Linked DNA regions of Homo sapiens: region 1 is linked to region 2. A link means that fine-mapping ties the variant in region 2 to the expression of a gene that starts in the linked region. Tissue or cell type: whole blood. Region 2 holds a variant in brackets; the other region holds the start of a gene. All regions are shown on one strand. Distances are between the middles of the regions.

What was found. PIP is the estimated chance that this variant, and not a neighbour inherited with it, causes the effect.
Region 1: it holds the start of FSAF1, and the variant in region 2 is fine-mapped to the expression of FSAF1 in whole blood (INTERVAL, PIP above 0.99).

The regions. Positions count from the first base shown.
Region 1 is chr1:231,237,795-231,245,972 of GRCh38, reverse strand. It overlaps FSAF1 (40S small subunit processome assembly factor 1), which reads left to right and starts at 4,798. Exons shown (of 7, transcript NM_152379.4): 1 at 4,798-4,949; 2 at 6,785-7,116. The coding sequence starts at 4,832. GNPAT (glyceronephosphate O-acyltransferase) reads right to left here and starts at 4,761. Exons shown (of 16, transcript NM_014236.4): 1 at 4,517-4,761. The coding sequence starts at 4,594. RefSeq lists enhancers at 3,859-4,748, 4,729-5,068.
Region 2 is chr1:231,216,942-231,225,119 of GRCh38, reverse strand. It overlaps TRIM67 (tripartite motif containing 67), which reads right to left. Exons shown (of 10, transcript NM_001004342.5): 10 at 3,555-8,178. FSAF1 (40S small subunit processome assembly factor 1) reads left to right here. Exons shown (of 7, transcript NM_152379.4): 7 at 706-1,355. The coding sequence ends at 841. Among named protein-coding and RNA genes, the nearest start is that of FSAF1, 20 kb to the left of the region's middle. RefSeq lists enhancers at 3,793-4,293, 7,444-7,943. The variant C/A (reference allele first, on the strand shown) is at 4,954.

The sequences.
Region 1 (8,178 bases), 21 kb before region 2:
TTTGAGACAGAGTTTCACTCTTGTTGCCCAGGCTGGAGTGCAATGGCGCAATCTCGGCTCACTGCAACTTCCACCTCCCGGGTTCAAGCGATTCTCCTGCCTCAGCCTCCCGAGTAGCTGGGATTACAGGCATGTGCCACCATGCCCAGCTAATTTTGTGTTTTTAGTAGAGACGGGGTTTCTCGATGTTGGTCAGGCTGGTCGCGAGCTCCCGACCTCAGGTGATCCGCCTGCTTTGGCCTCCCAAAGTGCTGGGATTACAGGCGTAAGCCACAGCGCCCGGCTATTTAATTTTTAATAATGGCTGTGTTTTAAGAATGGGCTCACAAACTTCATGAAAATTTAACAATCAGCTCTTGCAAGCCAATAGAAGACTGCTGTAGCACACCACTGGAAAGAGAATATAAGGAAAATAAAGCTGCGGTCAGGGCATGGTGGCTCACTCTGTAATCCCAGTGATCTGGGAGGCCAAGGCAAGAGGATCAATCGTTTGAGACCAGAAGTTTGAGACCAGGTTGGCAACATAGTGAGGCCCTGTCTCTACACAAAATAAAAAAAAAAACCAGTCAGGCGTGGTGGTATGCGCCTACAGTCCTAGCTACTGGGAGGCTGAGGAGGGAGGATCACTTGAGCTCAAGAGTTGGAGGTCACAGTGAGCTATGACTATGCCACTGCACTCCACTCTAGGTGACAGAGCAAGATCCTGGCTCTAAAAATAATTAATTAAAAAGCCAAAAATTAACAACAACAAAAAAAGAAAATTAGGCAACTAATGAGGAAAATGAGGAATAGTGATTGGATAGCTGTTTTAGATTCAATGGTTGTGGAAGGCCTCTCTGAGGAAGTGATATTTGAGTTGGGACCTCAATAATACAAAGAGCCAGCAATAAAACTTCTGAGAAAACATAGCATGCCACACAGAAGGGACTATGAGCATTCGAGGGAAGAGCATTTTACTGTCTGAGAAACAGAAGGCCAGGGTGGCTAAAGCCCAGTGAACAAGAAGATTAGTAAAGTCAGAGCAATAGCAGTTAAGAGATCATGTACAGTCTTGTGGGACACTGTAGTAAGGCATCTGCATCTTTCACTTGGACTTTAACAGGAAGTCATCATCTGGATTATGGCACACCAGTGGTTACCCATCCTCAGTCTTCTTTTCATTCTAGGGTCTCACTGAATGATTTCAGGCTCACCGAATGCTATAGATACAACCTACATGCTGAAAAATCTATACATTTAGGCCAGACCCCCTCTCTTGCTCTGGCACCATATTTCTAACCCTACTTGGATCTCTTCCAAACACTATGGAATGTATCTGGCTCATAACATGATAATCCACAAGTTAAAAATCATTATATTTCTCTCTTACATCACAAACTGAACACACCCCAAACTGAATTCTATTACCCTGACCAAACCTGCTCCTCTCCCCATATTTCTTATCAATGAAAGGCATCATCATCTGCCCAGTTGCCAAATCATAGAAACCCAACAGTGAACTTCAGACTATGCTATTTTCCTTAGCCACCACATTCAAATGGTTCCAAAGGATGATGATTTACTGTCCTAAATATCACATAAATTCATCAATTTCCCTTCTTCCTGGGCTCACTGTTACTGCTTCATTACTTCTCTGGATTACTGCAATAGCATTCTAACTGATCTCCACTTTTATGCATCAGATTCCCTACCCAACCTGATTCTCTTCCTACAGTCTCTACTTAGGCAAAACAGGTTACCTATACAGATAATCACACCAGAAACCTATAGTCTTCTCAGACTTTCAAAAATATAAATGTACTTTGGAAGGCCAAGGCAGGTGGATCACTTGAGACCGGGAGTTCGACACCAGCCTGGCCGACATGGTGAAACCCCGACTCTACTAAAAATACAAAAATTAGCCGGGTGTGGTGGCAGGCAACTGTAATCCCAGCTACTTGGGATGCTGAGACAGGAGAATCTCTTGAACCCTGGAGGTGGAGGTTGCAGTGAGCCAAGATTGTGCCATTACACTCCAGCCTGGGTGACAGAGTGAGACACCATGTCAAAAAAAAAATACATATACACACATATATTTATATATATATGTGTATACACACACACACACATAGATGTAAGATTAAAATCTCCCATAAAGTTAAGATTTTATCCCTAAGGATATGTAAACACGACACATAAAATTTCTTTAGGAAATATCTGCCTACTTCCTTACTTTGTTTCTCATGTCTCCTTTCTTCCACCCAAATCTAACTAATTCTAACCCCAAATATGCAAGGGAGTAGTTTTTTTTACATCAACATCTAGGACAGTTTTCCTCTCCCTCATCTGCCATTCACAGCTCAAAAACTCAGCTCATGCCAGGCACAGTGGCTCATGCCTGTAATTCCAGCACTTTGGGAGGTGAGTAGATCACTTGAGGTCAGGAGTTCAAGACCGGCCTGGCCAACACGGTGAGACCTTGTCTTTACTAAAAATACAAACATTAGCAGGGCGGGGTGGCGTGTGCCTAAAATCCCAGCTACTCGGGAGGCTGAGGCAGGAGAATCGCTTGAGCCCCGGAGATGGAGGTTGCAGTGAACCAAGATCGAGCCACTGTTCTCCAGCCTGGCAACAGAGCAAGGCTGTCTCCAAAACAAAACAAAAACAAAAACAAAAACAAAAAAGGAAGATCAGCTTAGATATCACCTTTTCTTAGAAACCTTCTCCAAGTTCCCAAACTGGTCAGGTGCCCCTTCTTGTCTCTCCCACAACACGCTGTGCATGCTTCAATCATTGCCCTTACCATACTTAACTGTGATTGTTTGTTTACTTTTATGACTTTTTGTGCCCTTAAAGGCAGAGCCTGCATCTGTAACTTCTATATCTTGGAAACTGAGAATAATGAGTAGGATACTGTATATATTCCTAATGTTTGCTGCAATCAGCAGTATCTTCTACGCTTCTAAAGTGCTACTTTTAGATCAGAATATTACACAATAACAGCGTAGCTGGGGAAATAAAAACAGCCTGAAGTACTAAGAAAAAGTAAGGTTACCGTGGAAGTAAAGGTTATCCAGTCACAAAACAGTAGTGAGAACTACCAGTAAAGAGTGGGTTGCTGTCCAGCATCAGAACTACAGAATGCTCAGATACAACTGCCATAGTTTTTCACATGAAAAAGTGGACTCAAGTCTTATTAAAGAACCGTTGGTAAAGGGGAAGTAAAACAAACAAACAAACAAACAAAACCAACTCCTTCCTTTAATGTACAAAAGGAAAATTCCAACCAATTCACAAACCAGTTGGGAGCTTAAAAAGCTACATGTTAAAAGCTGGATCTGCACAGCAACCCTCTTCCCTTCGTGCCTGCTCTGGAGTAGCAGAGTCAGAAAACAAAGTTGATATCCACCACAGAACTGTGGGGAAGATAAGATCAATGAAGAGATATATCTAAATAATAAGGCTTATAGGCAGTTAGCAATCAGAAACCGAAAGGTCTTGATAGAGAGGGAACAGAAGTTTCTCCATGTTCCAAAGAATATTGGTGTCTCAATTTGAAGGAACCCATATATTCTCTTTCAAAACTGGGGTGTTTATCTTGCTCTGCTGTGTTATCCCTGTTTTGACCTTTCTGCACAAATGAACACTACATTTAAGCCAAAATTGGACAGTAATCACCAGGATATGCTAATATGCTTTTAAAATGAATTCTTTCATTTTCTCCTAAAGTAGCTAAAAACTAATTTAGTGGTTAAAAACAACAAGAAACAAACAAAAACCAAACCAGTTGCCCCAGGTCTGTGCAATCCTGAAGGCTATAAAGCTCCCATCTCATAATTTCTTCATGAAAATCGTGGGTGACCAACATCTGCCAGCCAAAAAGACCCGTTAAAACCAAGAGAGGAAGAGGGGGTTGGAGGAAAAAAAGACAAGCGGGAGAGAAGCTGGGTGGCGCTGGCTGTCCTCCAAAATGATTTGTGGAAAAGGTACAATAATGACTGGAAGACAAGAACAGGCAATAAAAATGTCTAGAAGTTCTAAATTTTCCTGAAGTGTTTAAAACTCTATTCCCACATACAAGCCAAGTGCTCTACTCCCAGGAATATAACAGCAGCATAGGGCGGGGTGCGGAGCCACAGGCTATCTCAGGGCGGGTCAAACCCGCAAGTTTCTCAGGTTTGCCCAAAAGGTAGCTCGACATGCCCTCGCTAGAGATGGGGAGACTCCAATTCTCATTCCTCATTCTCGTGTCCAGGAGCTTTCTGAAGGCCCCAGGGCCTGATAGAAAGAAAGAGAAGGAAAAAGTGGAAAGGAACCAAAGGAACCATAATCCGTAGAAACTTCCAAAAGCATGCACACACAGACACACAGCGATACACTGTTGTCCTGGAAACCAATCCAACCAACTAACCCCTCCTCGGGAGCCTAGGGGCCAGCTCTTTTGGGCAAGGGTGGTGGGCCGGAGGAATAGGGACTGGGAGAAAGGGGTACTATTTCGCGCGGCTCCGCTCTGGGCCTCTTTTCCCTGGGCGCCTACCGAGTAGAGGAGCACGACAGCGCTGGGACTGGTTGGGCCAACGGAGAAATAAGAGTTAGATGAACTGGAAGACTCCATGGTGCGGCTGCCTTCCCGGGCGGGGTCTGGGATTCTTTGCTAAGCCGTGGTGGTGCTCCTGCTGGGGGCGGTTCTTTCGCTCAGGACGGCCCTACTTCGCCTAGGGCGGCGGCACCCTCTGCAGCCGCTACACAGGATCCCGGGCGCCGCCATCTCAGCCAGGACGGAAGCCGCGCAGGGCCCTGCAGCGCATGCGCGCAGTCGCGGAACCCGGAAGCGGGGGTGCAGCGCGGCAGAATGAGGGTTGATTCCTCGGCTGACCCCACAATGTCGCAGGAGCAAGGGCCGGGGTCCTCCACGCCTCCCAGTTCTCCGACACTTCTTGACGCTCTGCTCCAGAACCTTTACGACTTTGGTGAGTGCGGGGTCCCAGGAGCCCACGTGGAGAACAGATTTGAGGAACGTGGGTCTCCTGTGTTGCCCGTCCTGGGTTGGCCTCTGCTTTGAGGCTAAAGGTTCTTGCATGTCAAGCACCCTTCGTCCCACCTGGTTCCAGTAGCGAACACATTTCTCCATCGGAAGTCACCCCTCGACCGGGCTCTGCTGAGTTATTCATCAAACCTTCCAACTCGTCCCCAAGTGTGGGGACCATCCTACTTGCTTGTAGGAAGCACCAAGGCTTTCCGATTTAAAAGTAGCCCGCTTTTCCACGTTTTCTTGAGCCCTGGGAAGTCCCCTTTCCCCATGCCACCCCCAAGACCTGCCTGACCCTGGTGCGATGGTGTCATTTCGCTCTGGGGCCTCGGGCCTGTTGGATAATACACCAGCTTCATCCTTGTGTGTCCCTCTCCAGAGACATCATAGTCCTTGGCGAGTTGTCCTTTTCACGACTTTTTTTTTTTTAAACAAGTGCGCTGATCTTTTACTCTCCGTTCTTTGTCTTGATGGGGGAAAAGGAAAATAAAAGAGCCTATTAAAGTCGCATGGCATGTCAGTAGGAAGACAGTGCCTCATACTCTGAAGAGCTTTCCCGGGAGAAGGTGACACCCTTTGCACATGCACCAAAGAAAATCATTAGATTTCAGGACAACACACATTTCTTAAATTTACAGCGTGATATTTTAAAAGCTATTTTTATTTTGGAATGACTGCTCAAAATTCTAAGTTCACCTAAACAGTAGGAATAATAGTTAAAACTGTTGAGAACTTGCCATATAGCACATGCTTTTCGTGTATTTGCTCATTTAATTTTCAACTTCATGAAATAGACACTGTCATAAATCCATGATTGCAGATGTAGAAACAAGTACTAGAAGTTCATGAAACCTGATGCAGGTTGTCTGACTGGTAATTTTTGCAGAGCCTGGGTTCTGATTCTAGCCCCAGACCCCATGCTTGTATTAACTAGCATTTCTGTGCCCTTGGACATATTGGAGGACAGAGAAGACTTAGTCTCTGACCTTGAGAAGTTTAAAATCTAGAGGAAAAGACTATTCTGCAAAATAATATAGTTCATGTCAACACAGGCTGGAAATCATGGTAGGAGCTCTGAAGGCATTGAATGTGTCTATTCATTTTTATATCCTTAATGCCAAAGTTTAGTTGGCTCTTAAATGTTTATTGTATAAAAGATTAAGCAAATAGTAGCAAGCATAAATCAGCAGCTGGTAATTTAGAGAGCTCTGTGGTATTTGTAATACATGTGAGTAAGGATGCCTAGGATTCTGGTTAGAACTTTCAGGTGACTGGTCAGAGCTTCAACAAGTGAAATATAGAAAGAGGAATTAATAGAAAACAAAGGCATTCAAATTGAGCCAGTTGTCTTAGGTTCATCTTAATTCCTAACTGTGAAAGAAAATAGGAAGACTATTCCATGTTCCTGTAACCCAGAAAGTGTTAAAAAGAAACAGTGGCTGCAGTGCCTGATATTTTTAGTATAAAGCCAATTGGGATTACCAGCCCTGGGGACTATTGCTGTGATGACACTTTGAGTAGGAACCAAAGTGGAGACTAAAGTGATTGTGCTAATAAGGGTCAAAGACATAGTTACCTAGGAAAAGATGACTACATTTTGGATTCTCTGCATTTTGCAAATACACTTATTTGAAAGAAAACAAATAGTTTATTTCTTTGTGTGTGCTTCTAGGTGCATATAGCCCTGGAATATGTACAAATACATTCGTAGGATTTGATACTGATGATAGCTAAGACTGAAAATATTTATTTTCCTTCTTGTGTTTGAACAAACAGGAGGTACAGAAGGTGAAACAGAACAGAAGAAGATCATAAAGAAAAGGGAAAACAAGAAGAGAGATGTGATGGCTTCAGCGGCCTTGGCAGCAGAGCCATCTCCCCTACCTGGTTCTCTCATAAGAGGCCAGAGGAAGAGCGCTTCGAGCTTCTTCAAGGAACTTAGAGAAGAGCGGCATTGTGCTCCTTCTGGGACCCCCACAGGACCAGAGATCCTTGCTGCTGCAGTTCCTCCCTCTTCCCTAAAGAACAATAGGGAACAAGTAGAAGTGGTAGAATTTCACAGCAATAAAAAAAGAAAATTGACGCCAGATCATAACAAGAACACAAAGGTAATGAGTTGGTTAGCTTATATATACGTGGTGAACCCCCTGGTATTGTAGTATTAGGTGAATAGCTCTTTAGACTGTGGCAGGAATGCCTGACTATCCTCAGGCCTGCAGATTTGCCAAAAGGACTCACAGGACCCAAGACTCAGCATATAGCCCTTATCAGTCATGTAGGCCTACAGACTGACCTTAGTTATTCAAGTTCTAGACCTCCAGTGAAAAGCAGGTATTCACCATCAATCACATTGCTAGTATAAACTGTCTGGGAAAACTTGGTACAGCAGTGGCTCAAGACCTCAGGTATGCAAAAACACTCTGATCAGGCAGAATATTCTAATTGCTCAATTCTCAGGAGGCAGCCAACTGCCAGTCATGAAAATAGGACTTTCTTGGGAATGTGCAGGGTTTGGTAAACACAGGCCTGCTGAGTTAACTCTTACAGCAACTCTTTCTGGCATTCCTGTTATGTGCTAGCCACAGTTGTAGGCACTGGGATATAGCAGTGAACCAAATGTATAGAAATTCTTGCTCTCGAGGAAAAGCAATGCTGGTGGAAAAGCAATTTGATTTTTCTGAGCAGTAATCTTTTTCAGAGTGAGCTTGTAAATCTCACCTAAAATTCAGTCCCCAAGGGAGGTGTGGTTGCTCCTCCAAATGTTTTTAATTTTTTTTTTTTTTGAGACGGAGTCTCGTTCTGTTGCCCAGGCTGGAGTGCAGTGGCACGATCTTAGCTCATTGCAAGCTCCACCTCCCAGGTTCATGCCATTCTTCTGCCTCAGCCTCCCAAGTAACTGGGACTACAGGTGCCTGCCACCACGCCTGGCTAGTTTTTTGTATTTTTAGTAGAGTCAGGGTTTCACCATGTTAGCCAGGATGGTCTTGATCTCCCGACCTCGTGATCTGCCCGCCTTGGCTTCCCCAAATGCTGGGACTACAGGCGTGAGCCACTGCGCCTGGCCCCAAATGTTTTTAATTTATCTATTCACAAGAATATCATAATGGCTTTGACAAATTCATTGCTATTCCATTTCTGTAACATCCCCCACGTCCTGCAAACCTTTGTCT
Region 2 (8,178 bases):
TAATTATGAATAAGGGATGTTGACTTTGTTGCTTTATACTTGTTTGTTAGCTTTTGTTCAAATGCCTTTTTCTCTGTCTTTGAGTTACTGTTTCAGAATGGACTCTTTTTGTCTTAGCCTGTTTTCTTGGGCTCCTAGTGCACTTGTACATGCTGTAAAATGGTCATTTGTTCTGGCCACCGATCTGTATCTGTTGAATGCCTCTTTGTGCCAGGCATGTGGGTGTCTTAGGTATTGGTGTACAGCTGTAATCACACTAAAGATATCCCTGCCCTTGAGGAGCTTCATTGTAGGGAGAGAAACACCCCAAAACATACAAATGGATAAGTAAGATGATATCAGGTACTGGCAAGTATTGTAGAGAGGCTGAAAGAGAGCATTGTGAAGGAAAACCACAGGGAGAAGGTGAGCTGGGAAATTAGTCTGAGGAGGTGACATCGGAGCTGAGAACTGAACAAAGAAGAGGGGCAGCCTGGAAAGAGCTGGTAGCAGAACATTCCTTGCAGAAGAAACCAGTGCAAGGGCCCTGAGGCAGGAAGGCAGTAGCATGTTTCAGGGACCACAGGAAGGCGTATGGGGTGGGGGGTGTGCATGGCAGGCGACCAGGAGTTTGCAGGCCAGACTGCAGTGGCCTGGTTGGTGGTACTGTGATGCTTGTTGGTAAGCTTGACTATTTATAGTACCTTTCTCTTACTTTAAATGTAGGAAATCCAAAAAGAAGTCCGCTCCCAGTATTTTGTCAAATGGACGGATTGGACAGGTTGGAAAATTCAAAAATGGAACACTGATTCTGAGCCCAGTTGATATCAAGAAAATAAATTCTTCCAGAGTGGCCAAATGAAGTACTTTGTCAAATAAAACGAGGATGGGAACAACTGAGTCAACTGCAGCGGCCCTGGACCCTGTGCGACTCTAGATAGATCGTTCTTAACACGCATTTCACAGACTGCTTTTTCATTTTAGAAAAAAAGTCAAACAGAAGTAACATTTCTAGTTGCCGAAGTGTCTGCTTCATGGTGCTGAACGTGTCAGGCCCAGTGCAGCATGAATGTGAAGTGAACCCACTGAAAAGTGATTTTTAATGTTCTCCAGCAAACTTCACTCCTGTTTCATGTTCACTGGTATTTGGTGCATTTGCTTGTAATACAGTTTTTTATAACTTTACTGTTTTGTAAATGCTAGTAGTTTACATTAAATTGCCTTATATTTTTAATGATTTAATGTTATGATATCATGAAAGAACCAAGAATCTAGTAATTTATCAGTTTTGTGGAAAAGCAGTTTTAATTTTTAGCCTACCATGTGTACAAAATCTACTTCATAAGAAGTTATATAAATAAAATAGGTTTGTAGTATATGTGCCTGTGACTGTTAAGTAACAGATGGTTTTAACTCATACTTTTGTGCCCACATTCAAGTGAATGTTATTTCTATCAGAGTTGTCATCACCTTTGCAGCCATATACATGTTTTTAATGATATTGCCCTTGCTTAAAGTGACAGCAACTTCTCAAAGCTTGTAGCACATTTAAAAAGGTCTTCGATGATGGTGACAATTTGGGCTTTTAAAAATTTCTGTTTTTTCAATTTTTTTTTTTTTGTGAGACGGAGTCTCACTCTGTCACCCAGGATGGAGTGCAATGGCACGATCTCAGCTCACTGCAACCTCCACCTCCTGGGTTCAAGCAATTCTCCTGCCTCAGCCTCCCGAGTAGCTGGGACAACAGGCGCACGCTGCCACGCCCAGCCAATTTTTTGTATTTTAGTAGAGACAGGGTTTCACCATGTTGCCCAGGCTGGTCTTGAACTCCTGAGCTCAGGCAATCTGCCTGCCTCAGCCTCCCAAAGTGCTGGGATTACAGACATGAGCCACCACGCTCGGCCTGTTTTTTCAGTTTTTTAGAGACAAGGCCTTGATCTGTCACCCAGGCTGTAGTGCCCCAGCACGATCATAACTCAATGTGGCCTCGAACTCTTGGGCTCAAGTGATTCTCTTGCCTCAGCCTCCAGAGTAGTTGGGACTAAAGGCATGTGCCACCACGCCCAGCTAATTTAAAAGATGTTTTGTAGGCCGGGTGCGGTGGCTCACGCCTGTAATCCCAGCACTTTGGGAGGCCAAGGCGGGCGGATCACGAGGTCAGGAGATCGAGACCATCCTGGCTAACACGGTGAAACCCTGTCTCTACTAAAAATACAAAAAATTAGCCGGGTGTGGTGGCAGGCTGAGGCCTTTATTGGTTCTGCGCAGCTCCATATCTCCCTCCATCCAATCCTGCTTCCTTCCCTGGGCCTCCATGAATTTTGATCCCAAGAGCTCGCCCTAAGAAACATTTGCTGTCTAATCTCTGCATCTGCCTCCTACTCAGCTGAGCCCATTCGGTAATCCCATAGGTCACTGGTGTTAGGGGCTGTCGGGGGCCATGTGAGACAGCTGCTCTTGAGGATCATGAGGTGAGAAAGCAGCAAAGGACAGAGTTCAGGTCAGGCATGTCTGGCCTTGGTCTGTGTAGCTCAAGGGGCAGGTGAGTCTCCTTGATGCTCATGGGTTCATTGGGATGTTTTCCGCAGATCTCTACGTGGAACCCATGATCTACTCTGCACTCATGGATCGACCTTAACCACATGGTAACTGTTAGGTATCTCCAGCCCTATTCCCTCTTGTAAAAATGAATTTTATGACCTTCCTGCTGTTTGTGGTCGGGCCTTCCGTTTTATTTTTTATTTTATTTTATTTTATTTTATTTTTTATTTTTATATTTTTTGAGAGGGAGTTTAGCTCTTGTTGCCCAGGCTGGAGTGCAATGGCACGATTTCGGCTCACTGCAACCTCCGCCTCTTGGGTTCAAGCAATTCTCCTGCCTCAGCTCCCAAGTAGCTGGGATTACAGGCATGCGCCCCCACACCCGGCTAATTTTTGTATTGTTTTAGTAGAGACGGGGTTTCACCATGTTGGCCAGGCTGGTCTCGAACTCCTGACCTCAGGTGATCTACCCGCCTCAGCCTCCCAAAGTGCTGAGATTACAGGTGTGAGCCACCCTGCGTGGCTATTTTTTTAATTTTTAACACAGGGTCTTGCTCTGTCACGCAGGCTGGAATGCAGTGGCACAATCATGGCTCACTGCAGCCTTGACCTCCAGGGCGCCAGCGATCCTCCCTCCTCAGCCTCCTGAGTAGCTGGGACTACAGGTGCACCACCACGGCTGGCTAATTTTTGTATTTTTGGTAGAGACGGAGTTTCACCATGTTGCCCAGGCTGGTCTCAAACTCCTGGCCTCAAGTGATCTGCCTGCCTTGGCCTCCCAAAGTTCTGGGATTACAGGTGTGAGCCACAGCACCCAGCCTAGTTTAGAGTCATATGTAATCACCCTGAGATTTCCTGGGCACGCGAAGCAGAACCACATTGACCCTGCTACTTAGTAACGCCCAGCCCCACTGGGGGAAGAGACCGTGTGGCCTCCCCTCCTGTAGCCTCTGCCCTGTCTGCTGGGCAGTCAGGGCCAGTTGGGAAAAAGGCAGACCTGACCACGGAGCAGGAATTACAGACCACATCTTGTCTTTCTGTTGTTGGCAGTGTCAAAAGAATTTATTTCAAATCTGCTTAAGACTGTGGTAAAACTCAGGTTTTCCAAAAGGTAATACAGAAAGTTCAACTAACCCCCAAAGACCAGAAAACACAGTGTTTGCAATTCAAAAAATACAAACGCTTGTGGATACCAATACAAAAATTAGAAAAAAGTTGCTTTCCTTACCACTCCCCGCTACCCCCCGTGTTTTCAGTGGAACATCCACAGCAATAGGACCAAGAGCTGCCACCAAATACCAACAACGAGTGACCGAAAGTGGATGTGATGGGGGAAGGGGAGGGAGGAGAAATGGGGATAAAGAAAGGCAAGAAAATTGGACTTCTGTCGACGGTCAAAACAAGGACGCGAAGCTTTTTGTTTCTTGTTAAATCCCTTTGCCAACGTTAAACAAACACCTCTCATGCTTAATACAACAGCTTAGTGCCAACGCAGCAATCCTACATCATGCATTGAATGTTTTCTGCTTTGCCCGCTCCCCACTTCTTCTGGGTGCCGAGAAAGCCTGGGGCTCTGGGTGTCTGGTTTCCAGGGCTAGGAGGAGTTGGAGAGGCTTCCCCGGCTGGGTCTCACCCAGTAAGCACCTGACATGTTCCTGCTACTGCAGTTGCAAGCAGTCACCTTCCCGAACCTGAAGCCTGGTTTTGGCCTCTCCTCAGAGCTTTACCCGAGGGCCTGGCCTGGTCTGCAGTGCCCGCATCACCGGCCCACAGGTCCCTAGGCCTTTCCCAGGACTGTGCTCCTTGAGAGAAGAGCGATGGATCCGGACGAGACTTCCCTGGAGGTCTCAACTCCCAGCTCCTGACTGATGTCAACGTCAATCATTGAAAAAGCCAGGGCCTCCCCCAACCTGCATAGCTCGTGCTGGTGAAGCCCCAGCAGTCCCAGCGGTTATCAGTCATCTGAAAGTGACATGATGACCCACTAGCCCAACCAGCCTTCAAAACTTCGGCTCAGTTGCATCTCTTCGTGCTATCCACACTGGATTTCAAACCCATTCACACTGCAGAGACCCCTCGAAACAAAGGAGGCAAGCTGTGAGATGAGAGACCCCTTAGATACCAGAACTTAGGTAACAAAGAAGGCAGAGGCCTGGGTTAGTGTCCTTCCTTGGTTTAAAGGGGCTTCTGCTCACAGAGGCCTTGAGGCCTCGCAGTGAGACTGCTGACAGGTAGCCTGTTCATAGCACTCACACAGAGCGCCATTCAAACAGGCCTCGCCGGGAATGGAAACATATGGGGTGTTACTTTCTATGGTCATAGGAAACCTGTCTTAAAGGTCTATTTTACCCACTGGAGGCCAGGCAGCTCCTTGCCCTGGTCACAAGGAGGCTTGGATGGAAGACACTGGTCAGAGAACACTGGAACGCCCCC[C/A]ACAGGTTTGAGTCACTGAATGGGAATCATTAGCTTAGATGCCAGAGATGAAAGACTGCACTTTTTTTCTTTAAAAATGTTATTGTATAATCCTCACAATACATCAGAGGAGGTAGGTTAGTATGACTAGTCTCATTTCAGGTGGGGATACTGAGGCACAGAAAGGATAAGAGATTGGCCCCCACTCATACCATGAATCACTATTAAAGCCAGGTTAAAAGAGGGAAGTAACCGAGGGCTGAACTTGGTGTCTGATCAATACATCCTGCCCGAAACCTGCCCTCATATTTTTACAGCCTAGATATTAGGTTAAAGCTGCAGGATCCTTTGATCTTCTGGGAGGAACTGCCAAAGAATGTGGTCAACAAACACAGCTACCGGCTCACTTGCAAAAGAAAAGTCCTGAAATTTTCCAGCATCACCATCTTGAATATTTGCCAATAAGATCTGTTAGATTTTTTTAAAAACCAATTGAGGGCCACAAACCCATTAAGAAGTTCCTGTTGCTTCCAGTAAAATGTGGCCAAGGAAAACAAAGGTAACGAGTTTTGCTTTCTAGGAAGTGGGGAGCGGGCAGGGGGCATCTTCAGTGAGTGAAAATTCAAGACCCAACAGGTTGGCATCTGTTGGAGGTGGCTCACCCCATTTTCCCCTACCTGCCCCCTGAAGACACATGGAAAATCCTGGGCTTGGGTATCAAGATAAAGGCTGGCAGCTTTGTCACATACAGGCTTTCTATGGAACAAAGCAGCCGGAGCGCCACAGTCCCTCTACAGATCCATGCATGACAAACCACTGGCATAACCTGGTGGTTCTCAACTTGTGGAGGCCCCCAGGAGATACCTAGCAATGTCGACAGATACTTTTGGTTGTCACACCTAACTTGGGGGTTGCTACTGGCAGATGATGGGTAGAGACCAGGGATGTTGCTAAACATCCTACGGCATACAGAACCTATCGCAAAATGTCAGTAGAGGTTGAGAAACCCTGGCGCCACCCCACGGGCTGTGCAGCAGTGTTCTTTAGCATTCACATGTTGACTCCCCCTAAGGATTGACCCTCCCTCACTACCTCAAAGCCAGCAGGTGGCCATGGGACCAGCAGCAGCCTCCTTGACACTGAACCACCTGCCCACCGGTGCCGAAACCCGCCTTCCCAGGGGGACCAAGCCTTTCGCTTGCAATGAGAATTAAGGCTTAAATGCAAATATCCCTGGAAGAAATACACAAAGATCCTGCATTCTGATCCTTTCCTGAGAGTGCTGTGGTGGGGCGGAGGGCAGGGGCACCAAGAGGGAGAGAAAGGGCGCAAAGAGGAGGGTGGGCCTGCCCCCAGCTCTCTTGGTGAGCTCCACAGAGCCTGCCCAGGCTCAATCCGGAAAGCACCACCCTCCTCAAACTTGGTGGGCCATAGGGCACCTAGGGCGCTGTTGCAACTACAAAGTACATATCAGGCTGAAGATGCAGCCTGGAAATATATACAGTTTTATAGTGTTTAGGTCAGTTACCTTGTGGGTCAGTATTACTGGTGTCCTCTTTAATTGGAATCATTATTTTCCCAAGGAGAACAGAGAGAGGAAAAGCAGGCTTTGGGGAAATACCTTCCCCTGCTTTGAATTAGGAGCTGGGATGCTATGTATGCAGTGAGGTGCTAGTGGATATTTTCGGAAGAGATTAATTTTAAAAGGAAAAGGCATACACTTTGACCAAGCTTGCTCACTAGCAAAGAACAACTGCAGAACCACATTACAGAGGCACTATTTACAATGCAATGGAACTCGACATTTTTAAACTACTTTGAATTCCTTTTTCACTGAAACTGCTTGATAGATTTACACCAAGTTACTCCTCAGCCAGCCCAACAAAAGCCTCATCTTGATATCATTTATATGTATGTACAAATGTGCCACCATGATGTAACGTGTTATGGAATTCGATGGTGGATGAGAATTCCATGACCTGTCTGTCATTTCTACTCTGAAACCCGGGACCTTCCTGGCCATGAGGAATTGATAAGTTCCTTCTTCACTTTTCTGATCCCTCAAAAACACAAGTGTGTGGCACGGACCTGTCGTTCTCTTTGAAGTCAGAACATTGAAGGTGTTTTGTGCTGAAGACAGGAGAGGTGTCTGTGAAGGAGAGCTGGATGCTGTCCCTGGCATCGGCCGTATTGCTTCTGGGCTCCTGGAGGAGTCAGAAAAGGGAGAATCCCAGCCCCCAAGCTCAGGGTGGCAGTGGGGAGGAGGGAGTCCTGGCTGCACCTCTCTGGACTTCAGGGAACTTTTTTCTGAAAGAGGCCACCGGATTTGAGGGCATTACCCTCCTGCACTTTCCACTTCTCTCCTGACCTGGATGCTGCTCCCTCAAAGGGGTTAGGTTCAGGGTAGCCCCAGGCAACTTGTGCTCCAATGATGGGCGATTCTTCTGCAGAGCTGGGGCCACCTGGTGACCTGGGCTGTGGTGATGGTGGAGGCTCCACAGCCTTCCCCAGGGCTCCCCTGTGAGAAGCTGCTGTCACCAGGCAGCCCTGCCTAGCCCACTCTCATTCTGGGGGCAGGGTGTAGGCCTGTTTTTTTTTCAGAAGAGAGCTAGACACTTCCCAAAGCTGATGGCTTCCTTGGCCCCAGGAAAGTGGTGGCTCCTCTTCATCCTCAATCTTTAGGGATCGTCTCCATGCTCCAAGCAAAGGCCACCCAGAGCTATGGCTAAGGATGAAGCTGCAGGGATATGGGAGACAGAGGCAGAGGTGCGGGCAAGGACACAGGGTCCCAGGTCTTGTGTGTCACCACCAAGAGCTCTGGACAGGGCTCTGGGATGGGAGGAGGAGACCCAGAAACCGCTTGGTGAGATGACAAGGAAGAGGCAAGACCTAGACTTCCATGAAGCAGATAGCTCCCAGGCTCCGCAGCAGAGACTGCAACACAGCACCGAGCAGCTCCTGGAGACGGGGCAGCTGGCCTTGCCGGCCACATCTGCAGAGACAGCGGACCAAGCAGCCTTGCAGACCAAGAGCATGAGCTTTGAGGTAGGATTGTCGGGCCTGCTGAGTGGAGGGGGGGTACCTGCATGGCTCCGGCAGGCAGTTACTCAGAAAGCAGGCGCGGTGTCTGAACAGGAAGGCAGAACCAAGGACGCACAGTTGGTGCTGGTGAATGGGCGAATTTTATAAAAATCCAGTCCAGCAAATTGACAAGTCACTTCTCAGCCTCAGAAATAAAATGCTTGA